Linked DNA regions of Homo sapiens. The protein of the gene in region 1 purifies or fractionates together with the protein of each later gene. This does not show direct contact. Each region holds a gene or a part of one and is shown on either strand. Other genes may lie near its edges.

Region 1 (3,871 bases):
TCGAACTCCCGACCTCAGGTGATCCACCCGCCTCGGCCTCCCAAAGTGCTGGGATTACAGGCGTGAGCCACTGCGCCCGGCCCTGGCTAATTTTTAAACTTTTTTGTAGAGACGAAGTCTTGCTATGTTGCCCAGGCTGGTGTCAAACTCCTAACCTCAACTCCTGCCTTGGCCACTCAGCTTTAGTCTCTTGCTGGGGATTTTATTCTTTTTTTTTTTTTTTATAATTGCAAGTAATAAATTAAAAAAAAAAAAAAGAAAAGAAAAAGGGCTTGGTGGCCCATGCCTGTAATTCCAGCTCTTTGGAAGGCCAAGGTGGGTGGATGGCTTGAGTCCAGGAGTCTGAGACCAGCCAGGCCAACATGATGAAATCCCATCTCTATAAAAAATACAAAATGTTAGTCAGGCATGGTGGTGTGCGCCTGTAGTCCCAGCTACTTGGGAGGCTGAAGTGGGAGGATTGCTTGAGCCTGGGAGGCAGGAGGTTGCAGTGAGCCAAGATCACAGCACTGCACTCCAGCCTGGATGACAGTGAGACCCCATCTCAAAAAAAAAAACAAAAACACAACAACATTAAAAAGTGGGCAAAGGCCAGGTACAGTGGCTCACACCTGTAATCCCAGCACTTTGGGAGACCGAGGTGGGCAGATCACCTGAGGTCAGGAGTTCGAGACCAGCATGGCCAACATGACGAAACCCTGTCTCTATTAAAAATACAAAAATTAGCCAGGTTGGTGGCAGGCACCTGTAATCCCAGCTACTAGGGAGGCTGAGGCCAGGGAATTGCTTGAACCTGGAAGGCGGAGCTTGTAGTGAGCTGAGATGGTGCCACTGCACTCCAGCCTGGGCAACAGAGCGAGACTCCGTCTCAAAAAAAAAAAAGTGGGCAAAGGACATGAGCAGACACTTTTTAAAAGAAGACACACATGCGACCAACAAACATAAAAGAGCTCAACATCACTGATCATTAGAGAAATGCAAATCAAAACCACAATGAGAAACTATCTCACACTAGTCAGCATAGCCATTATAAAAAAGTCAAAGAATAACAGATACTGGCAAGGTTGTGGAGAAAAGGGAACCCTTATGCACTATTGCTGGGAGTGTAAATTAGTTCAACCTTTGTGGAAAACAGTATGGCGATTCCTCAGAGAGCTAAAAGCAGAACTACTGTTTGACCTAGCAGCCCCATTACTGGGTGTAATATGCAGAGGAATATAAATTATTCTACCATAAAGGCACATGCACGTGAATGTTCATTGCAGCACTGTTCACAATGGCAAAGACATGGAATCATCCTAAATGCCCATCAGTGACAGATTGGATAAAGAAAATGTGGTACATATATACCATGGAATACTATGCAGCCATAAAAATGAACAAGATCATGTCTTTTGTGGGAACATGGATGGAGCTGGAGGCCATCATCCTTAGCAAACTAACACAGGAACAGAAAACCAAATACCACATGATCTCACTTCTAAGTGGGAGCTAAATGTAAGTTATGAATGCAAAGAAGGAAACAACAGACACGGGGGGCTACTTGAGCAGGGGAGGGTGGGAGGAGGGAGAGGAGCAGAAAAGATAACTATTGGGTACTGGACTTAATACCTGGGTGATGAAATAATCTGTACCACAAACCCCGTGACATGAGTTTACGTATGTAACAAACCTTCACATCTATCCCTGAACCTAAAAGTTAAAACAAAAAACATTCAAACATTGCAAGATATGTAATATGGAAAGCAAATGTTCCCTATAATCCCGATAAATAATTATTATGAACAGTTTGGTGCATATTCCTCTATTTTTAAAAATAAATACAAACTTCTTTTTAACAAAAAGGGGAATGTTGTATATAAACTTTTGCAGCTAGCTTTTTTTTTTTTTGTCCAAAGTGTATCTTGGACATCTTTCTATATTTTATTCTGACTGGGTAGTATTCCACTGTATGGATGGACTGCAGTTTAAAAATTTTCTTGTTATTGGACATTGGCTGGTTTTCCATTTTTTTGTGATTACAAATAACCCTTCAGTAACATGCTTGTACACACTTCTTTATATTAGAGGGAGAGTTGCAGTATAGGTACGAACATCTGAAAAGCTGAACCAGTATCGCCAAATTTCTTCTAGACATGTGTATTTTCACTAGCAATATAGGAACTTCTGCTTTTCATACCTTTAGGAGGACTGGATATTATCAGTCTATAGACATTTGCCAACCTGAGAGGTAGAAAGACTTTTTTTTTTTTTTTTTTTTCTGAGACAGAGTCTCACTCCGTCGCCCAGGCTGGAGTGCAATGGTGCGATCTCGGCTCACGGCAACCTCCACCTCCTGGGTTCAAGCAATTCTCCTGCCTCAGCCTCCCAAGTAGCTGGGTCTACAGGCGCCCAGCACCACGCCTGGCTAATTTTTGTATTTTTAGAAGAGGTGGGGTTTCACCATGTTGGCCAGGCTGGTCTTGAACCCCTGGCCTCAAATAATCCACCTATCTCGGCCCCCTAAAGTGCTGGGATTACAGGCGTGAGCCACCATGCCTGGCCGAAAGACATTTTAATTTGCATTTTACATTACTAGGGAAGTAAGCATCTTTTCATTTGTATATTGTCCATTTGTATTTTGTTAACTTCCTCTTAAAATTTTTTTATTTTGTAATAATTATTTTGAGACAGGATCTCTGTCACCCAGGCTGGAGTACAGTGGCACAATCACGGCTCACTGCAGCCTCGACCTCCTAGCCTCACGTAGTCCTCCCACCTCAGCTTCCTGAGTAGCTGGAACTACAGGTGTGTGCCAGCACGCCCAACTTAATTTTTTTTTCCTTTTTTTTTTTTTGTAGAGATGAGGTCTTGCTGTGTTGCCTAGACTGGTCTTGAACTCCTAGGTTCAAGCCATTCTTCTGCCTTGGCCTCCCAGAGTGCTGGGATTTATGGGCATGAGCCACTGTGTGTGGTCAAAAATATTTTTTTTACTGTGGTAAAAAAACATACAACATTTATTATCTTAACTGTTTTTAAGTGTTCAGTTCAGTAGTGTTAAGTATATTCATTCACATTGTTATGAAATAGCTCCAGAACTTTTTTCATCTTGTGAAACCAAAACTATCCAGTAAACAACTCCCCTTATCCCTTCCCTGCAGCCCCAGCAATCTCTATTTTACTTTCTGTTTCTATGAATTTGACTCCTTTTTTTTTAAGATGGAGTCTTGCTCTGTTGCCCAGGCTGGAGTGCAGTGGCGTGATCTCAGCTCACTGCAACCTCTGTCTCCTGGGTTCAGGCGATTCTCCTGTCTCAGCTTCCTGAATAGCTGGGATTACAGGTGTGCGCCACCACGCCTGGCTAATTTTTGTATTTTTGGTAGAGATGGGATTTCACCATGTTGGCCAAGCTGGTCTTGAACTCCTGACTTCAGGTGATCCACTCACCTCAGCCTCCCAAAGTGCTGGGATTACAGGCGTGAGCCACTGTGTCCGGCCGAATTTGATTACCTTTTATACTTCATATAAGTGAAATTATACAGTATTTGTCCCTTTGTGACTGGCTTATTTCATCTACCATAATTTCCTACAGGTTCCCCCATGCCATAGCATGTGATAGGGTTTCCTTTTTAAGACTGATAATACCGCACTGAGCGTATACACCACATTTTGCTTATCCATTCATCTGTTGAGGGACATTTGGGTTGCTTCTGCCTCTTGGCCATTGTGAATAGTGCTGCTGTCAATACAGGTATGCAGATACCGCTTCAAGATCCCGTTTTCAGTTCTTTTAGATTTATACCCAGAGTGAGATTGCTGGAGCAGATGGTAGTTCTGTTTCTGAATATTTTAGGGAACCGCTATACTGTTTTCCATAGCAGTTACACCATTT
Region 2 (4,448 bases), on another chromosome or scaffold:
GCCATGAATAGATTAATGTCATTATTGCGGGACTGGGTTAGAGAGTGGCTTTGTTACAAAAGCAAGTTTGGCCCCTCTGCGCCTCTTGCTGTGTGCTCTCCTACCCTTCCACCATAGGATGATACAGCAGCAAAGAGGCCCTCTCAAGATGCCGATACCTTGATAATGGACTTCCCAGCATCCAGAACTATGAAAAATACATTTCTTTTCTTTACAAATTACCCAGTCTGTGGTATTCTGCTACAGCAACACAAAAGAGAAGACATGTATCATGAAATAAAAATTGTCAATATGTCAGATTTGAGGACACTTTTACAACATTAAAGGTATGGTTGAGACACTTCAGTTGGCATCAATAAGAGCTTAATCACCTAATGACTATGAAACACTCTAACCCTGGGGTATCCAATCTTTTGACTTTCCTGGGCCACATTGGAAGAAAAATTGTCTTTGGCCACGCATAAAATACACTAATAATTACAATAGCTGATGAGCATTTTTAAAAAAATCACAAAAAAAGCCTCATAATGTTTTAAGAAAGTTTATGAAATTTGTGTTGGGCCACTCTTACAGCCACCCATGGGCCACAGGATGGACAAGCTTGCTAACCTAACCAGCAGGATATGAGAGACTAAATAATCTTATCTCACTACGCACTAACACACACTGTGGCAAAATGCAAGTTCTTCATCAGTGTTAGATAAATACATACAGGAATGAATTTTGAAAAACAAAAACAAAAAAATCATGAGTTCGGCCAGGCGTGGTGGCTCACGCCTGTAATCCCAACACTGGGAGGCCAAGGTGGGCAGATCACCTGAGGTCAGGAGTTCAAGACCAGCCTGACCAACATGGAGAAACCCCATCTCTACTAAAAATACAAAATTAGCCGGGCATGGTGGCACATGCCTGTAATCACAGCTTCTTGGGAGGCTGAGGCAAGAGAATCGCTTGAACCCCGGAGGCGGAGGTTGCAGTGAGCCAAGATTGTGCCATTGCACTCCAGCCTGGGCAACAAGAGCAAAACTCTGTCTCAAAAAAAAAAAATCAATAGTTCAATGAACAACAAAATCACTTTTCAAATAGAGAATCAGTTCAGCCCAAAGTTCTTCAAGTTCCTGGTAAGCACAACCACTCCAGTGATTAAACCCTTGTCAAACTAGTACAGTCCCAAAAGTTTAATGACAGGATTCCATTATTAAAACAGGCATCCTTGATTATACTCCTTACTGCAATGGTTATATTCTACTGGGCTTATGCTTCTACTGGATTCAATTTTAAAGGCAAAAACTTAATAACTGTACTCAAACAAAAAGTTCCATATTAGTATTACTAAGTAGTTTTGGATATTATAGAATTTTAGAGTTAGATCTTTAGAGATCATCTCATTCAATTCAATACAGGAATTTGCTCTATACTATCCCTAGCCTAGTGGACCATCTTGTGTTGATTATACTACTTCAAAAGCCTCCAAGCAAACCCACTTCTACACTTATCCCTTCTCAATCTATTCTCTACCATCAGCTAGCAGAAACTTCTCAACACGGAAATCAGATCATGTTGCTCCCTGCTTGAAACTATTTGAAGGCTTCCATCTGCAAACTCCATAACCTGGCTCTTGCCAGCCTCAAAACCTGCCCTCACCTCACAGCTAATTCCCTCCTGTTTGCTCCTCCAGCTGCCTGGAATGCTCTTCCAATTCAATCCTCCCTATTTGCTCTTCCACGACCAGCTCCATCCATCTCATGCTTCAAATGTCAACTTTAAACAAACAACTCCTCAGAGAGGCTTCCTTTAATATATCTCTCCACCTAATTAACTGTATGTTTTCTTCACATGCCAGTTTTTAATTATTTATTGGCTTGTTTTTTAATCTATCTTCCCCATCAGACTGTAAGAAAGCTCCAGAAACACTGGCAACTTGTCTGTCTTTATTCCTCTCCAGTATCCCAAACAAAGAGGAGGCACTCAACAGTTATCAACTGAATTTATGGATGGTGACTCAAATTCTAAAATCTCTAGCAGTGGGAGACCTACTAAATAACAAAATAACTAACCTCAATTTTTCTTTCTCTGAACTGCAATCTGTCTTCTAGGTCTTAAATATCCTGTTACAACCAGCCAAATCAGGGCTGAACCCGTGAACTCGATCAGGACTGATTCCTAACCTTTTTCTTCTTTTTTTTTTTGGTTCGTGAACCCTTCTGATAAATCCTTTGAAGGCAATGGATGCTGCTTCTCCTCAAGAAACAGCACATGCACAGAAACAAAACATCCGAGAGGTTTCACTCCCTCAGGACCAGCACAGACCACAGACTAAAATTCTAACCTGGACGAAAAGAGGATTCACCAGTGCAATTTTTGAGAACTAAAGTCTTCAAAAATTAAATTTTACAGAAGACTACAGAGCATCTTCTTCGAAAAAAAAAAAAAAAGAGGACATTTCAGATGCCTTCAAACTACCTCACTTCGGAGGGTGCAACTGCAATCAGTAAATTTTCAAGTCTAAAAGAAACTTGGGAGATCATCGTCCAAAAACTGAAGGCCCAAAAGGTAGGAGACTCGTCTGTGGTCAAGTTAGCACAACAAGGCAGGTCTTTGGTCCCCCAACCCTGTGCTCTTTCCACTTAAATCCCGATGGTTTCTTACAGAGTTCTAATAGTCTGAGAATTGGAAGGGAGCGGAGAGCAGAGGGAAGGCTGGGGGGAGAGAGAGACGGCAGGACTGACAGGGAAGGGTCACTCTCCTTCCACTCTCCGGGAAGCGTGCAACACAGCCGGGGCAACCCGACTCCCAGCGCTCACCTGTCTGGGGCCCAGAGGCGGGTGGTGCGGTCTCGGGACACGGACACAAAGGCTCCCGGCGGATAGGCGCAGCACACCAGGCCCCGTACGTCCAGCTCGTGGCCCCGGAGCGAGCAGCTCAGCCGGTACCTGGTTGCGCCGCTCGTCATGGCCAGTGTCTGTCTGGCGCCCGGTGCCCAGGCACTGTGCGAGACCAGTCCGCAGGGGCGACTCGGAGAGCGCCGGGCCGCGGCGGGAGAAGAGCCTGCAGGTAAGGGGCGGCCGGAGACCGGAAGAGCCCGAGAGCCGGTACGGAAGGGCGGCTGGGAAGGGGCGCGCCGAGCGGGCCGAGTGACACAGCAAGCCTGACAGGCACTCCGGAATTCATCATCGGCCTCAGCCCTCCATGACGCAGAGTGTGTGCGTCCCAACCGCCGACGCCGATGCGGAGCTGAGCTGGCTTTCCTCCAGGGCTCTGGACTCCCTGCTGAGCAAGAGAGAAAGAGGCCCGCCCTTCCACCAGGACGCCTGACCCTGGGGTCCTTCCCAAACCCGGGTCTCTTCCGACTCCGGGCCCAACAGTTTGTGGTAAATCGGGAAGCGGGCCGGGACTACAATTCCCATAATGCCGCGCCAGCTGGCGTGGACATCCGGCGCGCCGAATCCGGATATTTTAAACCTGAGTCTTTCGCGCTGGGCATGGCGGAATGGCTGAGTGAGGTTGTTTGGTGTCTACTGTTAGGTCATCCTCACTGCTTTTCCCTGAGAATCTCGAGGTTTTTGCAAGTTAACCTTGTTTTTCAATTAAAACGAGAAAGCTTGAGGCCAAATTGGGAACTATTAATCATTGAACTATTCCTCCGTTTCAAGTTATCTGAATCTCCTACTCTCTGTTGTCAAATTTAGCAAATACGGTGGTCCAAGTCAATTTTTTAAAGGTATAACTACTTTTCTCTGGCGGCTTGTTAAAATGTAGATTCTGATTCAGTAGGTCTGAGTTAGAGCTGAGATACGTATTTTTAACAACCCCGCCGCCCACCCACCCGTGGTGCTACTTGCTAGTCATTATCAGACCTTATTGAGTGCCAGGGTAAACATGACCTGTCTCCTTACTTTGTTTTCTTCCCATCCGCTATTCTCTCGCATCCAACTACACTTTTCCACAAACCTTTCTAAATTGCTAAGCCCAATTCACACTTTTCTGACTTCTCCCTTCCTAAAACTCCTACTCTAGGTTTGGAATCACTTTTCCCCTGGTTTGGGAGATCATTCTTGAAATGCTGACTTTTGATACTTCTTTGCTATCATATCCCCTCCCTGGGTGGATTATTTACTACTTGGCTTATTTCTAGAGCTGTATTCCCATATTGTCTTCTCCAAACTCTAGATCTGTATTTCTAGCTATCTGTTAGAAATCTGTACCAATTAGTCCTACTTAAATTATTTCAACATTTCTCTGGCCTTTCTACCCCTTCTCTCCAGCCAATCCTACACATTAAAATATAATTATCTTTCTGAAATATACACTTAATTGTTTTTTCTCTGTTTGACAACCTGTGATGGCTTTCCATTATTTTTTTTTTTTTTTTTTTTTTTTTTTTTTTTTTTTTTTTGAGACGGAGTGTCGCTCTGCTGCCAGGCTGAGTGCAGTGGCGCGATCTCGGC
Region 3 (3,871 bases), on another chromosome or scaffold:
AACATGCTTCACAATCACACATGTGGGAAAACTCTACTACTAAAGAAATCCCTTCCTAGAAAAGTGTATCAAAGAGACTATACATTCTAACTCTGATGGTCACCATAGATTCATGTTTTACAAATTGTATAACACATGATATATACATGTATACACACACACACATATATATAGCTATAGCAACATTCCTGTATAACTCACCTTTACAAAGTTGCAGAGAAGTCAAAGAAACTCATATTAGCAATAGCAAAAAGAACAAGTATATATACATTTCAACCACTTAACCAACAATTTCTTAATGTATAACAAACCATTGGAACATAATGCTACTGGCATACAAGATTATGCTGCTGTCTTAAACAATTCTCAAATTCTTGATACTCAAGCCCTCTTTAAGTCGAATTCCCTACAAAGATTCAAAGACTACTCACCTGACTAGGTGTGCCCTTATTTAAGTGCAGTGTTGGTGCAGAATCCCCTAAAAGAGATTTCAGTGGTTTGACCTCAGGTGTGCTGCTTGTGCTACTGGCAGAGGACCCTGAAATAGATGCATGAACTGATGCCACGACTTTGGCTTGTTCTGGCGGGACATACCTAAAACATGTAAAAAACAGTTAACTAAAAAAAAATGTAGGTAATTCTATATCAAAAAATGATAAGCTTAATTCTAACTTTGTACAAGATTGTTTCACCATTAATCTTATCTGAAAACCCTCTCACACAGAATAACTTTGCATATTTTTTAAAAAAGGAACGACAGCTTAAGACTACACCCATTAAATATTTGAAATACTCAGAGAAAAGAGAAGACTAACCACAAAACTTGTTTCAATTACTTATTTATGGTTTTTCTAAGATATTAAGTACAATATAAGAAATAACTGCTTTTTTTAAACAGAGGACCTACAATTAGTCATCACCATGAATAGTTCATACTATAATTTTTAAAATTATCTTAAGATCTAAATAACATTTGAAGAAAGATGAGGTAGGAAAACATTTGTAATATTACAGTTAACAGCCTAAAATATAAAGGCTTATTACATCTGTAAGAATAAGATCATCCCATTTTAAATGAACAAAAGAAGCAATTCACAGAAGACAGGAGACACAAAAATGAAAACACTTTTAACCTGACAAAAATGCAAATTAAGGTTTTATTCACCTATGAGCTAAGTGTGAACTTTACAATTTTTTATTGCTACCTACTAAAATATATAAATAGGTGTGCTTTGTGCACCAGAAGTGCCACTTCCAGAAACATCCTTAAGAATTGGTAAGTGTATACAGATGCATGTACACATGGATGTTAACCACAGTCCTCTCTTTATAATTTCACAAAAACTGGGAAACAAACCCAACATCTATCAAGGAAAAAAAATTTACGATAATACAATACTCATAGCTACTCTGCTTTGACATGGAAAGAGGAAACTTCACAGGTCTTTCAGATTTGATTCCAGTCATATAAACACATGATTTATGTGAGGAGGCGAGTCAAGAAAGGAGAGGTAGCAAGGATATAATAATGTCCAAACATAGGCAATCCTGACCTCTAGGTGTGGGATTATGTGAGAGCTTTTGCTCTTTGTAATTCTGGGTTTTGTCCTACCCTCCTTCTTATTCCCCATATGAAGTAGGTGAGGAAAGAAGGAAAACCATGCTTAAGAGCACCTGTTCCAGAGACAAGAGTTCAAATCCCAGCTCTACCACTAAATGGCTGTGAAACCTTGGGCAAACTATTAATACTTCAACTCTTTGTGCTTCCATTTTTTTCATTTATAAAATGGAGAGGCAGAGTTGCCTAGGTTTAAACAAGTTAACATTTGTAAAGCACTGAGAACAATTCCTGGTATACGTGTTAACTAAGTGTTCACTGTCACTAAACTACATAATAATCACAAACAACTGCTTTCAAGTAAATGGGAGAGATAAAAGATGTATGAGAATGAATACAAGAAGTTATATTTTCCCATAATTTAGCATACTACTAATACAAATTCTTCAGTATAGCCAAGTCTTATCAAAGGATAAAATCAAATGATAGTTATTGGTTCAAAAGACTCACCTGGCAAAGTAATATGCTACCATATTTTTACTATCAACCCACCTTCTAGGATTTTCTTCTTTCCTGAACTTAAATTTTACTGGTGTATTTTAATCTATTTTCATACCTGATGTCTTCTAGTATAACACAGAAAGTGATTTTGAGAACTGGTCAAAAGAACAGTTTCAAAATCCCTTTGGATAACACCATCATCACTGTTTTAAGTATAGTTACAGTGAGTATTTTTAGAGATGCTGCATCTGGATAGTGCTTATTCCATGTTAGAAACCAATTTCACTGCTTGCTAGCTGTATGTTACAGGTGTGCAGCAGTCTGGATTAAAAACATACAGGTCCTGGCCCTCTTAATGATGGTCACCTGTCCCACCACTTGAAGTCTCTATTTGTATAACTCTTATTATCCTGTTTCTCAGGAAAGAAAAAAAATAACATAAACTGTAATTATTTGAGGTTTCTAGGTATTTGCGTTATAGTTTGAATGAATAATACATTACTGTTATAAATGTGGGGGTAAGGATCTATGATTTTAATTCTACCAACTGTTACTCACACTCACTTTTCTGTTGATAGCTAGAGCTGACCATAAACTAATCCCTAACCAAACTCACTTTCTGAATTGGTAAAAGTAACACGGCTGAGAAAACAAAACTAGGTTAGGGCTATGTAAGGAGAACAGTCTTTCCTACAGGGTAGAATGTCTAGGAAATTCAGAACCAAAATGATAAAAGGATAATTATACCTTTCATTTTAAAAGAATCATTTATGCTACCATATTTTTACTACCAACCCACCTTCTAGTATTTTCTTCTTTCCTGAACTTAAATTTTACTGGTGTATTTTAATCTATTTTCATACTTGATGTCTTCTAGTACAGCTGAATATAGCCCTGACTAATCTTGCCTTGCAAAAAGTAGTCTATTTTAGGCCGGGCACAGTGGCTCACAACTGTAATCCCAGCACTTTGGGAGGCTGAGGCAGGTGGATCACCTGAGGTCAGGAGTTCAAGACCAGCCTGGCCAACATGGCGAAACCCTGTCTCTACTAAAAATGCAAAAAATTAGCCAGGCGTGGTGGTGGGTGCCTGTAATCCCAGCTACTTGGGAGGCTGAGGCATGAGAATTGCTTGAACCCAGGAGGCGGGGGTTGCAGTGAGCCGAGATCGCACCATTGCACTCCAGCCTAGGTGACAAAAGCAAAACTCAGTCTCCAAAAAAAAAAGAAAAATGTAGTCTATTTTGGAAAGTAGTAAGAATACAAATTTTGATAGAGCATGCAAGTCAGAGCTAATGTGCTCCTGAATGAAGGTAAAGACCTCTGCTGTAAACCACAACAAATGTTCCCTCAGGACCAAAACAGGCTCTGAACAGATTCTCTTGGGTTGAAACAGAGTTCCTCAAGCAAACAAGAAGCTCGTTACTTCCCCATTATTTATTCCCTCTATTTTGACTCTCTGCCCCATCTTGTTAACCTCCCAAGATGAAAGTATCCACTATGCAATACTATTAAAGAAATAACCAAAAGTTCATAGTTAATGAGTCTTAGTAACTTAAATTGTGCTCATATAGCTAAAAATGAAGAACCCTCAGTAGCTGAACACTAGCTTTATAGATATAGTCCCTATTCCATAGCAAGGGGCTTACTAGCTATATGTACAACCTGTTGGAATTAATTTTTAAAAATTAACATCTGATAGATTTAGTTAGGGAAAAGTAAATGCTCCCTTCTTAACCAGAAAGTAAACTGATTTCTTAGGTCAAAAGAAAAAATATTTTGAGCAAAGGCTACAACAGACAATTAAGTAGAT
Region 4 (4,517 bases), on another chromosome or scaffold:
TTTGACAGAGAGATAAAAACAGATTTGGAAAATGCATTTTTAGTGAGTTAATGCTACCTTTCCTCTCCAATTACTTTATGTACACTAATGTGTATATAGTACTATAGTCAAATATCACTTATTATCACTTATTAAGGGAAGTTAGAGTTTAGCATAAATTATATTGCTTTTTGGGGTGTAAATACTGAGAAATTCTATTCGCATAAGATGTGAAAAGAAGTTTTGTTATACCCAAGTCTCTCCATGTTTTGAACTCCTCCCCAGTTAATCACCAAAATACACACACACACACACACACACACACACACCATGATCTAGTTATCAAAAAACTTTTTCTGTCATTTATCAGCTGGCTTATTAAAATAAATCAATTTTTCCCTAGAAAATCCTTAGTAATTCTCCACATTGCTAAGATACACCATAGCAAGATTCTGGATGGTGAGAAGTTAATGGTCCAAAGTACCGCAACCTTAATAGTCCAACCTATCTTCAATACTTTTTACAATAACCACACAAAGTGGTCCCTAGTGAACATAAACCCTTAAGTGGGCTGAGGAAACTTATATGTCTTCTTGATAGAACTTTCTGCAATGATGGAAATGTTCTCTATCTTTGCAGTCCAATATGATAGCCACTGGCCATATATGACTATTTAAACTTAAAAATTCATAATGCTCAATAGTAACACGTGGCTAGTAGCAAACTGTATTGGAAAGCATATTTACGGCCCTCTACTCAGTGTGGTCTGCAGTTTCAGCTGGCACTTTGTTAGAAATGCACAACCTCAGGTCTAGTCTCAGAGCTACAGAAATGGATTCTGCATTTTAACAAAATTCCCAGGTAATTCATATATACTCAAAGTTGAGAAGCACTGTATTAGAAACCTCTAATTTGTACAAAAATTTTCCTTATATTGACTAAAAACCTGCTTTCCCAATATGTCCACCTTCTAGTCTTAATTATTGCTTCTGGCCGCACAGTGCAAAATTCAACTCCCCTTTCCAAACAGCCCTTCCAAGTGTGGACCTAACAGGAAGAGGCTGAGGCAAAATTAATATGAGTAGTTGCCCTGACTATAGGCTTCGATTACAGTAGTTACAAGTGGATTTTTAAAGCAAAAGAAGGGGCAGTTCCTATATTCACCAAGAATTTGCATTGAAATAACAGGAGGTAGCCCGGGGGTGGCACCAGGCATTTGTAGTCCCAGCTACTTGGGAAGCCGCCAAGGCAAGAGGATCTTTTGAGGCCAGGAGTTTGAGACGAGCCTGGGCAGTATGGTGAGACCTCCTCTCTACAAAAAAAAAAAATTTTTAATTTGGTGGGCATGATGGCACATGCCTGTAGTTCCAGCTACTCAGAGGTTGAGGTAAGAGGATCTCTTTTTTTTTTTTTTTTCTGAGACAGTCTCCCTCTGTTGCCCAGGCTGGAGTGCAGTGGCTCAATTTCGGCTAACTGCAACCTCCTGATTCTTCTGCCTCAGCCTCCTGAGTAGCTGGGATTACAGGTGTGCACCACCATGCCCAGCTAATTTTTGCATTTTCAGTAGAGACAGGGTTTCACCATGTTGGCCAGGCTGGTCTCGAACTCCAGACCTTAAGTGATCCACCCGCCTCAGCCTCCCAAAGAAAGCCTCCCAAAGTTGGGACTACAGGCATGAGCCCCTGTGCTCACCCGAGGCAAGAAGATCTCTTAAGCCCAGGAGTTCCAGGCTGCAGTGAGCTATGATCACAGAGCTGCACTCCAGCCTGGGTGACGTAAGAGAGATCCCATCTAAAAAATAAATAAATAAAATAATAACACAAGCGATTGATTAGCTATACATTGTTCTTTGTATCACACATTCCAGGTACATTAAGATAATGGGAGAGGCAGCTAGTCAGGGACAAAATTCCTTTAAATAATTGTCCCGGGGCTGCATAGGGGAGTATGGTTGAAGTCTCTCTGGGCTCTGATAAATTTTGTATACATCACAGAGTTCTGGTTGTTCTATTTTCCTTTTCTCACCAGTAATTTCCCAGCTACTGAATTCTCTGCCTACCCACGTTTTCCCGGTCTATTTGTTTGTTTTTTGAGGGCAGGGTCTCACTTGTCGCCCAGGCTGGAGTGCAGTGGCGCAATGACAGCTCATTGCAGCCTTGACCTCCCAGGCTCAGGTGATCCTCCCACCTCAGCGTCCCAGGCGTGCGCCACCACACCCAGCTAATTTTTTGTAGAGACGGGGTCTCGTCATGTTGCCCAGGCTGGTCTCGAACTCCTGGGGCTCAGGTGATCTGCCCACTTAGGCATCCCAAAGTGCTGGTATTACTCTCATGAGGCACCACGCCCGGCCGCAAGTCTAATTTTCTTAAAGAGTTAAATATACAGAATTCATTCAAGTGTGCTTCAGTGCCAGAAAGCGTTCCAAACTGGGTTTCCCGACTTTTGCAAAACACGTGTCTAAGCGTGTGGGTGAAAGAACAGACGACTCTCGAGGAGCCCAACCCCTGGCCTCTGTGCTTCTCATGCTTACTCCCCAAACCAAGAGTAGGGTCGGTCTGCCTGCTTGGCTCTTTTGCTCTCACTCACGGCCCAACTCCTGTCACCCTCTTCCATTTCCTTGTCCTCCTTCCCGCCACCAAGCCCTGTCCTTTCCCTTCCTAGGCCAGCACCTGACTCAGAAGACGCGGTCGAGACACGATGCCCCGCAGATCGATGTAGATGGGGGAGGAAAGCCCGCTCTTCAGCACGAAGTCCCCAAACTTGAAAGCCTGCACGTCGTACAGACCCGTCACCAATGGCCCCAAAGCTGCACGAGCGACCGCCATTGTCGCGCGCTGCCTGTTTGCTTCAAATTCCCAGGCGCCCCGGGCCTCCGGCGCCCCGATGACGTCACCCGCGAAGTCCCGCCTCTTCCGCCTGCCTCGTCTGCAGCTTTCCCGGCTTGCTGCACCCGTGGGTTTCCCCGGGCTCAAGGGTCAGGTGGATGGTAGCGAACCTAGCGCCAGTTTGTGCTTCTCCTGGTTTCTTCTGGATGGGGTCGCTGGGGTTCAAAGCCCAGAACAGCTAGATTGACTGTAGGATCATGAAGTCCCACCTTTCATGAGAGTTTGCATAAATCCTGTCCATTTTTTAATAGCCAATGCCTTCTCGACTAGTTCTCTTAATTATCTCTACTCCTTGGCCTAACATGTTATATTTGCTAGTTATTAGCCAAGATTTACCCCCCATGTTTCTCCAAATAGAATATAAGTTATCAAAGACAGGGACCTTTACTCAATTCTTTTATTAACTTCATAGCATCTAGTACGTGACAGTTCCATAGCAGTTTGCACATAGGAATATATAGCACTTAGATCATTACAGTATTCATTACCTCTTTTGTCTGTACTCTGCTTCCTGGAGGAGTACTTTTTTATTTCCTTTGGCGTACCTCAAATGCTTAGGTAATAGGTGTAGAAAAGGTAAGGGAGGGAAGGAGGAGAGTTAGAAGACGGTTAATTGATTGGTATCAGGGTTATCCAGGAGGATAATATTGCTAGACAATCTGAAAATCCAAACATATTTGGTCTTTACAAATAAATCCCTTAAAGAAATAATCAATAAATAATCTGTACAAATAAATCCCTTCTCCATTGTGTATATAAGGCAATACTTTATTCTAGCTTAAGGAAAATAACCCTTAAATTCACATAAAGAATGAAACCTTGTCATTTGCAGCAAGGTGGATGAACCTGAAGGACATTATGTTAGTGAAACAAGCCAGGAACAGGAAGATAAATACCAAATGTTCTCGCTCATATGCAGAAGCTAAAAAAGTTGATCTCATGGAGCTAGAGAATAAAATAGTAATCACTAGAGGCTGGGAAGGGTAGGGGGTGGTTAAAGGACACAAATTACAGCTAGATAGGAGGAATAAGTCCTAGTGTTCCATTGCACTGTAGGGTGACTGTAGTCAATAATAATTTACTATATATTTTAAAATAGCTAGAAGAGGGGCGTTTGAATGTTCCCAACACAAAGAAAGGATAAATATTTAAGGTGAGGAATATATGAATTACTCTGATTTGATCACTGTACATTGTGTGTATTGAAATAGCACTATGTACCCAATAAATGTGTACGATATCATGTGTCAACTATAACAAATACTTTTTTAAAAAAGAGGAACAGATAAGGCATAGCTGTATAGTGCACTACAAAGAACATGAAGTTTCAAACCAAAACATTTGGATTTTAGTCCCATTCTACTTACTGGCTGAGTGATCTTTGGCAATGCATTTTGAGCTATATGAGTCTCAATTTTCTCAAAAATAGAATGAAGAAGCCGGGCGCGGTGGCTCACGCCTGTAATCCCAGCACTTTGGGAGGCTGAGGCGGGCGGATCACGAGGTCAGGAGATCAAGACCATCTTGGCTAACATGGTGAAACCCCGTCTCTACTAAAAATACAAAAAAATTAGCTGGGCATGGTGGTAGGCGCCTGTAGTCCCAGCTACTCGGGAGGCTGAGGCAGGAGAATGGTGTGAACCCGGGAGGCAA
Region 5 (4,579 bases), on another chromosome or scaffold:
AAAATTAGCCAGGCTTGGTGGCACGTGTCTGTAGTCCCAGCTACTCAGAAGGCTGAGGCAGGAGAATCGCTTGAACCCGGGAGGCAGAGGTTGCAGTGAGCCGAGATCACACCACTGCACTCTAGCCTGGGTGACAGAGCGCAACTCCGGCTCAAAAAAAAAAAAAAAAAATTAAGAGGTCATCTGGGAATATCTGGAAAAAAAGAATAAAATTTTCTTCTCCTCTTAAGATCTTTAAAAGAGAAATGATGGTTGAAAGCAAAAAATTTAATATTGTCTGATGGGGATTTCAATGTATGTAGATTAATAAATATGACAATTACAACATAAAGCAGTGAGAGTAAAGGGACCTATATGGTGATAAGTTTTCTACATTCTCCTTAAAGTGGTAAAATATTAACTCTAAGTACACTATGAAAAGTTAGGGATGGATATTCTAACTCCTAGAGCAAGTACTAAAAAAACCTACATGAAGAAATATAGTAAAAAACTCTATTAAAATGAAATATTGGCCAGGCACAGTGGGTCACACTTGTAATCCTAGCACTTCATGAAACCAAGGAGGGCAGATCACCTGAGCTCAGGAGTTCAAGACCAGCCTGGCCAACATGGTGAAACCCCGTTTCTACTAAAAATACAAAAATTAGCTAGGTGTGGTGACGCACACCTGCAATCCCAGCTACTTGGGAGGCTGAGGCACGAGAATCTCTAGAACCTAGGAGACAGACGTTGCAGTGAGCCGAGATCACACCACCGCACTCCAGCCTGGGCAACAGGGCAAGACTGTGTCTCAGAAAAAAAAAAAACAAAAAACTAAAGCATATTCAAATAATCCCAAAGATGGAAGAAAAAGAGAGGAAAAAAAAAAAGCAGAAACCAAATTATAATAAAATGGTAGCCCTAAATCAAACCATATCAATAATTACATTAAATGTAAATGGCCTAAATATACCAATTAAAAGACAGAGATTGTCAGAATGAATAAAAAAAAAGACCCAGCTACATCTATTTATTAAAAACTTACTTTAAATAAAATGGCATAGGTAAGTTAAAAGTAAAAATAAAAGTAAAATGTAGACCTACTCATAACTCCCCCGAACTGGAAATAACACAAATTCTCACAGATGCATGGCTAAAAACTACCATACATCCATGCAATAGAATATTACTTAGCAATTTAAAAAATTATTGGTACACACAACAAAATGGATTAATCTCTAAGGCATTATGCTGGGTAAAAGAAATCAGTTTCAACAGTTACAAACTATATGACTCCATTTACATGGCACTTCGGAAAAGGTAAAACTATAGCAATTAGGAAAGATCAATGGTTGCCGACAGTTGGGGTGGAGGCAGGGCAACATCAGGGAGTTTTTTAGGATGATGGAACTGAGGAAGCCATGGTTGTGGTGATAGTTATATAAATCTATACATATGTTGAAATTTATAGAACTGTACACCAAAAGTCAATTTTACTGTATGTTAATATTTAAAAATGAAGTAAAATAAAAATTACGTGGATGATCTCCATGGACCCTTCCAGACTATGATTCTATCAGTGAGAAAAAGAAAGGAGAGGCAAAAGGAAGACAAGGAGAATGTTAAGTCCTACTGGCATAAAAGCCACTACTCAGAAGAACGGGATTACTGTACAAAAATATACAAAACAAACCCAATCTTCAGAATTTATTCCCAGAAGGGGCTAAGAAAACCGGACATTCGGATCTAAAATATGTATATTTTTAAATGCCTATGAATAGCTTTTCTTGTCTGTTTCTATATTTTTTTACTTTGAAGAAGCTGCCAATTTCTGCTGGCTTAATGCCAATTTCGCTGCTTGGGGTTACTCAATTTACAAGCATCCCTTTATTTATACCCTATACTCTAGGGTCTCCGGCAGTCACAATAACGACTCTGAAAAAGCAGTCGCTTTTGCAGGGTGCCAGAAAGATCAGCGCTCCTCACCCGGAACTAAGGTCCCTGTGGGACACAGTACACCCCGTCCACTAGTTCCAAACTTAAAAGACGCTGGGCGGAAGGTCTTCCCAAGTCAAAAAGCCTCCCAAAGGAGAAGGACCCTGGAGGCCGGGCTTCGGGGCATTTCTGCGTCTCCGGACTGCCCTGTCGCCTCCGGGGCAGCTAGCCGTTTTGAGGACTGTCCTGGTGTGGGGCTGTGGGCTGCAGAAGGTTCTGCCCAGCGACCTTGGGCAAGTCCCTTCCTCTCCTGGAGTAAGAGGAAAATTCTGGGAAGGCTGTGTAAGGGAGCTTCCCATTGCCGCCTCAGAATCCACTTTCTGCCCCCCGCTCTCCAACGCCAAGAAGGAATCACACTTGGCCCTCCAGACTTCACCCCAGCCTTATGCCCGCCACCCTTCCCAGTCCCTGGGAGACCCGCGGGAACTAACACATCCAACCGAGGGCATGGCCCGAAGGCAAGGGGGAGGCAGTAAACACCAAATCCCGGTCTCAGACCCACTCCGCCCCAAGCGGGCCTACCGGGCGCATTCCGACCCGCCCCGCCCTGCGGTCACGGCCCGCCAGGTCCCGCTTCCACCCAAGGGAAGTACAGAGCGCGCCGGGGAGGGTCGGGTGGGGGGCCGGGTCAGGAGGCGCCCACCTTGAGCTGGGACTTGGAGACCTTGCCGCTGTGGTCCTGGTCGAGTGCGGTGAAGGCGTGCCAGATGGCTTTGAGCAGCTCCTCCTTCAAGCTCCCCATGGCCGCGGCCCTGCTGCCCCGCCAACCCCTCCTGCCCAGCCAGCCCCTCCGCGCCTCGGACGCCCCTCAACCTCCGCAGCCACAGCCCGCCGCGCAGTCACCTGACCCGCCAGGCCCCGCCCCCGCCAGGCCCCGCCCTGCTGCCGGCGCCGGTCCAGTGCCGCGCCCACAGCCGCCAGAGTGTGGGTTCTGCGAGTCAAGCCACGCCTGGTGGCAAGAATGCTTGGCCTTCAGTGTCAGCCAGGACGGTAAACACATCTCCCTAATGTTTCCCAGACCAGTTCGGGCCATTTTGGGTGCTCGAGTACAACACCTCACACAAATGACCGCGTCTTGAGGAAAAACCCGAGAGATTAGGTGAGCAGCCTACCCGCCTCCTCCCAGCGCCCCGCAGTGAAAAAGGGATCCCTGGTCCTGTCCTGGGAACGGAGTCACTGTCTGAGAAGGCCAGAGAAGACCCCGAAAAGTCCCCAGACCAGGACTGAAATGATAGCGCAGTCCCAAGTCGGGGAGATGCAGGGCGGCGGGGAGGCAGGAAGGACCTCGAGGGAAGTTTGTTGGTTCATTTCGCAAAAGTTTATTCATGCATACTCTATCTTGGGTTCTAGGGACACAGCGACGACGTTTAAGGGGAGTTTAGAAGTCAGGGTCAGGCAGCATTTTCTTCCTAACGCCTAGCTGTTGTTCAATTCACATCTTAGGAGGGGTTTGACCTGGGTAATACCTCTCTGTAGTGTTTCTCTGCTTGCAGAATAGGAGATCTGGGCCAATTCCAAATCACTCCACCCATTTTACTAATCCAAAGAGATGGACCATTTAAAAGAACGTATTCGGCCAGGCGTGGTGGCTCACGCCTGTAATCCCAGCCCTTTGGGAGGCCAAGGCGGGCGGATCACCTGAGGTCGGGGGTTCGAGACCAGCCTGACCAACATGAAGAAACCCCGTCTCTACTAAAAATACAAAATTAGCCGGGCGTGGTGGCACATGCCTGTAATCTCAGCTACTCGGGAGGCTGAGGCAGGAGAATCGCTTGAACCCGGTAGGCGGAGGTTGCAGTGAACCAAGATCGCGCCATTGCACTCCAGCCTGGGCAACAAGAGTGAAACTCCGTCTCAAAAAAAAAAAAAAAAGTATTCGATTGCAGCTGTTGAATTAATATCTGTTCGCGGTGGTCACAATGGTCACTTGATCTCTTTGGGCTTCAAATTATCCCGTATAAAAAGAGCAGGGTTGCACCAGATGTTCTGGAAGGGTTCTTGCAGTACTAGCATCCTAGGATAATAACTATTGCCGGTTAACTAAGGTCTGATTAAATCGCCAGGCTCAGTACCTCTCCTCTCCAATCCTGGACTAATTGGAGAGAACAATAAACACCAAGAGTTTTTAAAATGAGGTGGTTCTCAGATGAAGTTTGGTTTTGTTTTGCTTTTTTAAGTTCCTTAATGCACATGTTTGCCTTATTAAGAAAGGAAAAGATCTTCATAAGAAAGGGATATTTGGAAAGAGAAGAACAAGAAGGAGCCTCTTCAGTGAGTTTGAGATCAAAAAGGAACTGGTGGGGAAGAGGAGAGGATGGCCCCACTGACGAAAGAAGGGGCAGGAGCAAAAGGGTGGCCAGCCCCTCACTGTGACTGTCCTGAAGGTTCTACCCCATTTCATCACCATTTGTCAGGACTTTTCTTGCCCTACCAGAATCCAATTTCTATCATTTATCTTCCCCATTTCCAGCCCAAGTCTGCCAGTCAGCAAAACCACATGGTTTAACCTCTGATTTATTCATGCGAAGTCAGCTTACCCTGAGTAGCAAAAAAAAAAAAAAAAGAAGAAGAAGAAAAAAGAAACGAAGAAAACCTCCTAATTCTC
Region 6 (4,396 bases), on another chromosome or scaffold:
GTCCCCCCAGGAGGTGACTCCGAACAGGACCTCTCTAGGGCGGGGGCCAGGCTCAGAACAGGTCAGGGGGCCTCCCGAGTCACCCTGCGGGGCCAAGAGAGAGGACGCTGCATTCACCTGCCCCCTATGACGCCTGCCTTACGCCTGGCAGGTGTGAGCTTGCCACTTGTGTCCATTTTAGGGATGAGGACAGAGAGGCTCAGAGAAGTCGAGTGACAGACAGACGTGGAAGGAAAAGAGGCCGTAGTGGCCCTGGGAAGGCTCAGCCGGCCTTTTCTCATCAGACTGGGTTCATACCTGGCACGAGTCAACGCCCCCCGCCAGGTACCCGGCGCAGAGCATGGTGCTGGGGCGCAGCCCGGGCCCCAGGGCTCTTCGGCAGGTGTCGGTGCTGAGCAGGGGAACACGGGCCTCTCTCACTGCTTCAGCCTCAGGCCCGTCTGCAGGGAAGGGGTGGAAGGCTCAGGTTTGGAGGGCAAGAGCCCCGCCTTGAGGGTCCCCTTCCCACCACCCCCCTTGATTCCTCCCCCTTTGAAAGAGCAGGCAGCATTTTTCCAAGGCAACCCGGCCTCCCTACACTCTATTACCTCGGACCCCCAGTTCTTCCCACCACGCGCCGGCTCACCCACGCCCAGTACCTTCGAAGAGGGCGCCCCAGCCCGCGATGGCGCAGGCGGTTCCGGCAGGGGGCTCCTGGGGCTCCTGGGGCAGGCACACGGGGCGCGCCGATCCCCCCGGGCTCACCGGCGTCCACAGCTGCACCAGGGCCAGGTCGTTGTGGAAGGTCCGCGGGTCAAACTGAGGAGGGGGAGGCGGCGCAGGGTCAAGGAAGCACGGGTGGGGGTGCGGTGCCCAGCCTTGGGGGCCTGGGGACTGCCTTCTCACCTTGGGGTGGGGCAGGATGCGGTTCACTGGCACCTCCTCCGCTTGCTCCCCCCGGGACCCCTCTGCCAGCGTCACAGTCCACAGAAGCTCATTCGGGGCGCTGCGGGTCGAGCGGCAGCTGAGACGCAGGAAGGACAGGGGCACACCCCGCAGGCCCCTCGGAGACCCTGCCCCTCCGCCCGCATGCCGGGCTTTCTCCACCTGGGGGCACGGAGGGCGGGCCGGGGAGGGGTCCCGTCCCAGAGGGGGCGAACTCGCCCGGCCGTGCCACCCCCTCCGGGCTGGCATCCTGGCGGGGCGGGCGCGGCGCCTTGAGATGGGGAAGCCCGGGGCCGGCCGCCGCCAGGGGGCAGCAGAGACCACCTTTCCCGCGCGTCGCCCGCCGGACAACCCGGCAGGTGCGGGGCCCAGCGCCGGGGACCCCAGCTGGGCAAGGCCTGGGGGTCCTACTTACCCTACAAAGCAGTGCGCTGCCGTGAGCACCCAGGAGGCCGCTACCAGGACGCCGCCGCACAGAGGCTGCCCGCCGAGCTGCAGCCTCACCAGCCAGGGCCAGGCCCCGGGCGGCGCCGCGCTGCCCCCCACGATGCGGCCGTGGGCCCGCGTCACATTGGCAGTGCTCGGACGCCTCTCGCCGCACGGCCCTAGAAAGGGGCAAGGGGTGTCACGAGGGACATGTTCTGGCCATCCTCGCCTTCGAGGCCCACCCGGCTCTCAGGCCTGCCCCCTCGAGCCTTTTCAACCTCACCTGGCTCAGGTGGGTCCTGGAGGAGAGCTTGAGGCCTGGGGCGCCCAGATCCTGCAGAGAAACAGACCTTTGAGTCTCACTGCTGCCCTCTCGCCTGTCCTCACCCCAGGCTGGGCCGAGCCTCTCTCTCCCCATCTCTCCTTTCGCGCTCAGCCCTCCAGCCCACACGGGTTCTATTTCAGCAACCATGAACTTCTCCTGGTCACCACAGGAGCCCAGAGTGTTTCCGCCTCCCTGCCTTTGCACAGGCCATGCCCCAAGCCTAGCGTGTCCTTTCCACTCGGAGAGACAGACCTTCACAAACGTAGTCTAGGTTGCGGCCCAACACAGTCTCTGCCCCCAAGAGGAGAGTGAAGACTGAAGGGAAGGGACAGAGGCAGCAGAATGGGCCCAGGGTAGGCAGCAAGCTCACTGGGGCACGGGGGGCAGGGTGGGCACCTCGGCACTCGTGCGATCTGTGCTGGATCTCCATCGCCACTCGGTTTATTGCCCACTGGGCGCTCCTCTGGGCTGCCTGCAACGCCTGAGTCCCCTGGGCCGACAGAACTGCTGGGACAGGGGGCACACAATCATGCGTGGTTGGGGAAGAGCCTCAGCCTCATCCTCCTGGCCCCAGCCCTGAGCCCTGCCTCGGGAGACCCACCAGCCTGGGACAGAATGAGGAGGCAAGTGAGCCCCGGGGACGCTGGGCCCAGCACTCAGAGCCCGTGCTCCCAGGTTCTCAGCCCAAGATGTCTCCCTAATTCAACTGAGCTGGACTGGGATCTTTGAAAGGTGCTTTTCCTTAACAATTTTTTTTAAAGACACCACCCCAAAGATACAGACATCGCAGAACTCAGCTTTATTGACTGAAAGTAGCTGTGTTTGAGTGGCCCACCTTCGGCCGGGACAGCCAAGGGCAGGGTGCTGCCCCGGGCCGTTTCTCTCTGCTTCTTGGGGCCTTCTCTCCATTCCTTTCGGCATGCTCAACAGCTCCCCTTCCCTTTCCCGCCACACCCCTCCTCTCCCACCTATATCTCAGTTCTTGGCCCCTTCTCGCAGCAGGGTGGGCAGAAGGAGCCAAAGGTCCTTATGAGTGGGGGTGACAAGCTCTTCTGTCCCCGCCCGCCCAGGGTCCCACTTCCTCTACATTCCTCCCAACCCCGCGGCTCTCGGGCCAGCCTGGACTTACCTTGCAGGGCGCTGGGGGGCAGGCGTGTGTACAGTGGGTGCCCGTGGGCAAACCATGAGCTTGGGAGGGGTAGCAGCAGCAGCACAGCCAGCAGCATGGTGACCAGGAGCTGGGGTGAGAGACCCCTGTCCTCTCTCCTCCTCGGAGTCCACCTTCCGGGTGCCTATCCTTTGGTGCCCGCCTTCTGCTGCCTTTCGGCCCCCGGGCACTGAATTCTTGTCCCTCAAATCATCTGACCCCGTTCTCTTACATCAAAATTACCCGCCTCCCTGGTCAGCCCTCACCTGGCCCTTAACTCCTAGGAGCCCACAGGGGAATGGGGCTGCAGGGTCTTTATAGAGGACAGCCTGGGGGAGGGGTGCACGGGAGGGTGGCCAAGACTGGGGGAGGAGTGGGGTAGTGGGCTTGACCTTCACCTCTGAAGTCTCATCATCCCAGCTCCGAGCCCCCCTTCTGTCAAAGGAGCCCTTGTTTCTGCGGCTCCATCAAAGGGGCCAAGACAGGGAAGAAGGGCTGACGGTTGGGCTGCAGGCCAGGCAGAGGGGGGCTGCTGGGTGGGGGCGGGCCCTGGCTCCAGGGCTGGGATGGGGGGGGATCCCCATCTGCCTCTACCCCCTGAGGAGCTTACAGCTATGACGGGGCAGACACTCCTGGAGGGAGGAGGGCAGGGGGTGTCTGGGGTTTCTCAGCAGCCCCACCCCCTGAGGAAGCCCTGGAGCTCCCCACCCCTCTGCCCCTAATTGCTTGGCAGAGTCCCTCCCCAATGTGGCCATTTCTAAAGATGATCAAAGCAGCCTAATTAGCGCCGTAATTGCCGCACTGGGGGTGGTGGGGTGGGAAGGGGCAGAGGCAGGCAGCCGCAGGAGTGGCGCGGAAAGGGAGGCGGGAGATGAAAGGCCCACAGTGGCCCAGTTCCGGGAGGACAGGCCCTAGCAGCTTCTGACGCTCTCCCAGACCCCCTGGCCCTGCACAGTGCCCGCTCTGCCTGTCCGGCATTGTTCTGTGACCCTGATCTGGCAGTGGGATTCTTCTGGAGTCCTCTGGAGTCTCATGGGCAGGGCCACACAGCTCTCCTGGGACTGAGTTACCACCTGGGGTAGGATAGTGCCCGTCTGCGCTGCCCAGGCTCCCCAATTCATGTGAGGTGAACTGGTGGGAATATTTATCAGCAAATGCTATGACCCGGGGCTCTTTCCCCCTGGAGAGCCAGCTGTTCCACAGTGACCAGCACACCATGCTAAGGAGCCCTTTCCCCAGTTACCACCGCACCTCGCCATGACAATACCTCTACTTCAGGAATGCTCTGAAAATACTGTCTGCGGATGATTCTGGTGAGTGAATTTGGTGAAGTTGGAAAGGACTCTATTCACCAGAGTATCTGTCCATCTTGCAGGGTATCTTTTTATCCATGACCTCCACAATCTTGGTAGATAAGGCATTAGCTCAACACAGCTTGAATTTTAGCATAAACAGAGACAGTGTCCAAAGGAAGATCGCCTGCGGTTCCCAGTAAGAGCCACCAAAGCAGGGGACCCAGGAGCAGAGAAGGTGGGTGGGAAATCCTCACAGGCCTCTGTGAGGATTCGACAGAG
Region 7 (3,871 bases), on another chromosome or scaffold:
CCGAGGAGAGGAGAGGGGGAGCGGCTCAGGGGAGGCCCATGTGGCAACGGTACCTGGTGCCAGGCACGCCCCGACCCCACCCCATCCCCAAAGCTCAGGACTGTGCACCCTGGGGCACCCAGCGACATAAACCCAGAGCATCAGGAAGGCTCCAGGGAGTTGGGCAAGCCGAAAAGCAAAACTGGCAGGGGCAGGGCAGAGGCAGGAGAGCCCCTTCCCTCTGTGTTGGAGGTGCGTGTCGCTGAGTCTCAGCTGACACAATGGTGTGCGCGCCCCTCACGTTCCACGGCCCCTGCCTAAGCCCGCCGCGCTGATCATGGTGGCAGGGTGGGCACTCACTTCCCATCGTCGTCGCCCAACCCCAGCTCAAAGATGCGCTGGGCGCCGAGCTGCTCCAGCCGCTTGTCCACGTACTTGCCCATGGCATTGAAGTGCTCGTAGGTCTTGTTCCCAAGACCAAACACCTGCGTGGACACAGGGGCCGCTCTGAGGCCTGGCCCTCGACCTGACCAGTGGGAGGGGCCATGGGGGCAGGGCGGGAGGCCCCACAGCACTGGCTGAGCTGCTGGCAACACCTGCAGGCCTCCGTTCCACCAGGCGCCTCGCACTGCAAGGAACACTGGGCCACTGAAGAGGCTTCATCTGGTTGACCTGCAGCCCACAGCCTGCCCCGTCCACTGCCAGCCTCAACCCACAGGGAAGCGGGGCCAGCCCACCCTCCCCACCGGGCTGGGGCTCCAGCTCTCCGAGGCCAGGCAGGTCTCAGTCGTCCAGCCAGACCTTTCTTGCCTTTAGTCTCCAGCACCCAATGCCCCCTGGAGCCGACTGGGGCTGGGGACAGGGAGGGGACATTCTCGTAGTGCTGGGGTCTGGGGCAGAGGAGAGGGTCTCACAAGTGGCCTGCCCTGGCTGCTGAGGACAGGGTGGGGGTCTGGAGGGCTGCCTTTCAGATACATGGATCTGGAGTCCCCAGGGAGGCACCGCAGGCCACCGGGAGCCCATAGCAGTCTCTGGGTGACTCACCGCGAACTTGACCCCAGAGAGATCCACGTCTGTCTCCTGCAGCCAGTCGTAGAAGTCCTGGGCATTGTCGGTGGGGTCTCCCTCACCGTAGGTGGCCATGCAGAAAACCACCAGGGCGTTGTCGATCTCTGGCAGGCTGCTCAGGTCGGCCTGCAGAAACAGGGACAGGACCGCGCCCCGGCCATGACTGAGCCTGTTCAAGGTTCAACCCGCACCAGATGGGGAAGGCCAGGTCCTGCCCAGGGTGGCACCAGGCCAGGGATGTCTGAGTGTCGTGGGATCAGAGAGAAGTAACAACACGGAGGGGCTGGGGCATGGGCATTTGTGCCAGGTGGGCAGGACAAGGTCACCCGTGTTAGGCTGGAGCGGAGAGGATGTGTTTCTAGAGGAAAGTGAAGCTTGGCACAAAAGAGCCATCAGAATGCAGCCTCCTGAGCTGATGCAGGTCTGGGGCCACCCTGGGAACCTCATTCCAAAGCTCCCAGGCACCGCACAGCCCCGGTGCACACTGATATCTAACTAAACTGTTCATCAACTGCAAATGCAGCCTGGAGAGGGCTGTGGGGTAGTGCCCGTCACCAAGACCTCGAAGGAGAGGGGAGTGGAGCAGCTGGGGAGGGTGGGTTTGGTTTGGGAGATGTGGCGGCCGCCAGGAGGGCAGCCGGCACTCAGGGGAGGGCCAGTCCTGGGGAAACGATGCCTGGCACGTGGCTGCAACTGCAGGAATGGCCCTTCCGTCAGTCAGCCCGGGCAGGGATGGCAATGACCCTCACGGGAAGGCAACTTCCGAGGACGTCTTCCCAGGACCCCACTCCCTGCCGGCCTCCCCCTGCTGAGGGGCGCCCTACAGACCTGCTCCCTGTCCTACCCACTGCCTCCATCTGGGGCCAGCACGCGGTGGCAGCTTACCAGGTCATACTCCTCAGGGTCCGCTGACATGCCTCGCATCCCGTAGCGGTGGGCGTCCTTGGACAGGCGGTTGGCAAACTCCTCTGCAGTCCCCGTCTGGGAGCCGTAGAACACGATGATGTTCCTCCCCTAAGGAAGGCAGACACAGGGTTGGTGAGGGCCACAGACCTCAGCCACGGCTCCGGTGAACACCCACTGGGCAGGCCTGGCAGGCGGGGGCCCTCCAGGCCGCCCCCTTTCCTTCCTGGCTTTGAGTCCCTTCTAAGTTCCTCTGGGACTTGCTTCTCACTGTCACAGCCACTGTGGCAAAGGAGGGCAAAGGTCACCAAGGCAATCTCACACACGCGGCTGCTCAAGATCACACTTCTGACATTTTCATGACACGGGGAAAAAACAAAGTTAAAAAAAGTAACCAAATGTATAGCCCCTATCCGTGGGGGAATGGTTCCAGGACCTCCCATAGATACTTACATCCAAGGATGCAGCCGGGCGTGGTGGCTCACACCTGTGATCCCAGCACTTTGGGAGGCTGAGGCTGGCAGATTACCTGAGGTCAGGAGTTCAAGACCAGCCTGACCAACATGGTGAAACTCCATCTCTACTAAAACTACAAAAATTAGCCGGGCATGGTGGCGTGCACCTGTAATCCCAGTTACTAGGGAGGCTGAGGCAGGAAAACAGCTTGAACCCAGGAGGTGGAGGTTGCAGTGAACTGAGAACACGCCACTGCACTCCAGCCTGGGTGACAGAGCAAGACTCCACCTCCAGTGGCTCACGCCTATAATCCCAGCACTTTGGGAGGCCAAGGCGGGTGGATGACTTGAGGTCGAGAGTTCAAGACCAGCCTGACCAATATGGAGAAAACCCTGTCTCTACTAAAAATACAAAATTAGCCGGGCATGGTGGCACATGCCTGTAATCCCAGCTACTTGGGAGGCTGAGGCAGGAGAATCGCTTGGACCTGGGAGGCAGAGGTTGTGGTGAGCCGAGATCGCGCCATTGCACTCCAGCCTGGGCTACAAGAGCAAAACTCCATCACAAAAAAACCCAAAAAACAAAAATCCAAGGATGCTCAAGTCCCTGCTATAAAATGATGTGGTATTTGTGTGTAGCCTACACACATCCTCCAACATACTTTAAATCATCTCTAGATTACTTATTAATGTAATACTTAATGTAATGTAAATTCTCTGTAAATAGTTGCTATGCTGTATTGTTTAGGGAACAGTAAGATGACAGTATGTGTTCAGGACAGACACAACAATCCATTTTTTCTCCAAATATTTTCAGTCTGCAGTTGAATTCTTGAACTCCGAACTCACGGATATGCAGGGCTGGCTATACAATCCAATTGTGTTATATAAATAATAGATATGTATATCAAAACATACATATGTATTTTCTTTCTATACCCACAGGCACAAAGAAAACAGACTGGCAAGAAATATACCGAGGGTCCCTAAATGGGGCATTCTGGATGTGTTTTGCTGGTTAAATACATATTCATTATAAAATTTTACAACAGGGAAAGGTCCTAGGGGCTGGCTCACATACTCGTCAGTCCACCCTCCTCCTCCAGCAGCTGTTGAAAAGCCTGAAATCCTATTCCCCAGAGCCCGTTGGGGCTGGAGTTGCAGCCAATTCGGTTCAGCCAATTGAACGTGCTTTGCAAGATCTGAAGGGTGGAAGGGAGGCCAAGGCTTCCTGGCCCCTCATGCACATGTGAGGTTCTCTGCAGTGCCTGGTCTTCAGTGCCTAAGGCATTTTTCTTTTTTTCTTTTCTTTTTTTTATTTTTGTGTGTGAGACGGAGTCTCGCTCTGACGCCCAGATTGGAGTGTAATGGCACGATCTCAGTTCACTGCAACCTCTGCCTCCTGGGTTCAAGCAATTCTCGTGCCTCAGCCTCCTGAGTAGCTGGGATTACAGGCACCCACCACT

What was found.
Region 2: the proteins of RMC1 (region 1) and PLAA purify together in Homo sapiens (affinity purification with mass spectrometry; one large-scale study listed by BioGRID and IntAct). This does not show direct contact.
Region 3: the proteins of RMC1 (region 1) and AGFG1 purify together in Homo sapiens (affinity purification with mass spectrometry; one large-scale study listed by BioGRID and IntAct). This does not show direct contact.
Region 4: the proteins of RMC1 (region 1) and UMPS purify together in Homo sapiens (affinity purification with mass spectrometry; one large-scale study listed by BioGRID and IntAct). This does not show direct contact.
Region 5: the proteins of RMC1 (region 1) and SWAP70 fractionate together in Homo sapiens (co-fractionation; one large-scale study listed by BioGRID). This does not show direct contact.
Region 6: the proteins of RMC1 (region 1) and PRSS56 purify together in Homo sapiens (affinity purification with mass spectrometry; one large-scale study listed by BioGRID and IntAct). This does not show direct contact.
Region 7: the proteins of RMC1 (region 1) and POR purify together in Homo sapiens (affinity purification with mass spectrometry; one large-scale study listed by BioGRID and IntAct). This does not show direct contact.

Annotation. Positions count from the first base shown.
Region 1 is NC_000018.10:23,509,777-23,513,647, forward strand, and holds part of RMC1 (regulator of MON1-CCZ1 complex), read left to right. Parts: intron 1-3,871. UniProt on the Homo sapiens protein: Component of the CCZ1-MON1 RAB7A guanine exchange factor (GEF). Acts as a positive regulator of CCZ1-MON1A/B function necessary for endosomal/autophagic flux and efficient RAB7A localization.
Region 2 is NC_000009.12:26,944,093-26,948,540, forward strand, and holds the start of PLAA (phospholipase A-2-activating protein), read right to left. Parts: upstream 3,151-4,448; 5' UTR 2,954-3,150; coding exon 2,805-2,953; intron 1-2,804. UniProt on the Homo sapiens protein: Plays a role in protein ubiquitination, sorting and degradation through its association with VCP. Involved in ubiquitin-mediated membrane proteins trafficking to late endosomes in an ESCRT-dependent manner, and hence plays a role in synaptic vesicle recycling.
Region 3 is NC_000002.12:227,520,486-227,524,356, reverse strand, and holds part of AGFG1 (arf-GAP domain and FG repeat-containing protein 1), read right to left. Parts: intron 595-3,871; coding exon 432-594; intron 1-431. UniProt on the Homo sapiens protein: Required for vesicle docking or fusion during acrosome biogenesis. May play a role in RNA trafficking or localization.
Region 4 is NC_000003.12:124,728,759-124,733,275, reverse strand, and holds the start of UMPS (uridine 5'-monophosphate synthase), read right to left. Parts: upstream 2,825-4,517; 5' UTR 2,805-2,824; coding exon 2,649-2,804; intron 1,771-2,648; exon of another isoform or gene 1,672-1,770; intron 838-1,671; exon of another isoform or gene 760-837; intron 1-759. UniProt on the Homo sapiens protein: Bifunctional enzyme catalyzing the last two steps of de novo pyrimidine biosynthesis, orotate phosphoribosyltransferase (OPRT), which converts orotate to orotidine-5'-monophosphate (OMP), and orotidine-5'-monophosphate decarboxylase (ODC), the terminal enzymatic reaction that decarboxylates OMP to uridine monophosphate (UMP).
Region 5 is NC_000011.10:9,662,317-9,666,895, reverse strand, and holds the start of SWAP70 (switch-associated protein 70), read right to left. Parts: upstream 2,820-4,579; 5' UTR 2,717-2,819; coding exon 2,618-2,716; intron 1-2,617.
Region 6 is NC_000002.12:232,519,104-232,523,499, reverse strand, and holds the start of PRSS56 (serine protease 56 isoform 2 precursor), read right to left. Parts: upstream 3,113-4,396; 5' UTR 2,902-3,112; coding exon 2,805-2,901; intron 2,180-2,804; coding exon 2,072-2,179; intron 1,685-2,071; coding exon 1,634-1,684; intron 1,530-1,633; coding exon 1,340-1,529; intron 986-1,339; coding exon 886-985; intron 799-885; coding exon 639-798; intron 441-638; coding exon 298-440; intron 85-297; coding exon 1-84. UniProt on the Homo sapiens protein: Serine protease required during eye development.
Region 7 is NC_000007.14:75,977,641-75,981,511, reverse strand, and holds part of POR (NADPH--cytochrome P450 reductase), read right to left. Parts: intron 2,062-3,871; coding exon 1,933-2,061; intron 1,174-1,932; coding exon 1,024-1,173; intron 465-1,023; coding exon 340-464; intron 1-339. UniProt on the Homo sapiens protein: This enzyme is required for electron transfer from NADP to cytochrome P450 in microsomes. It can also provide electron transfer to heme oxygenase and cytochrome B5.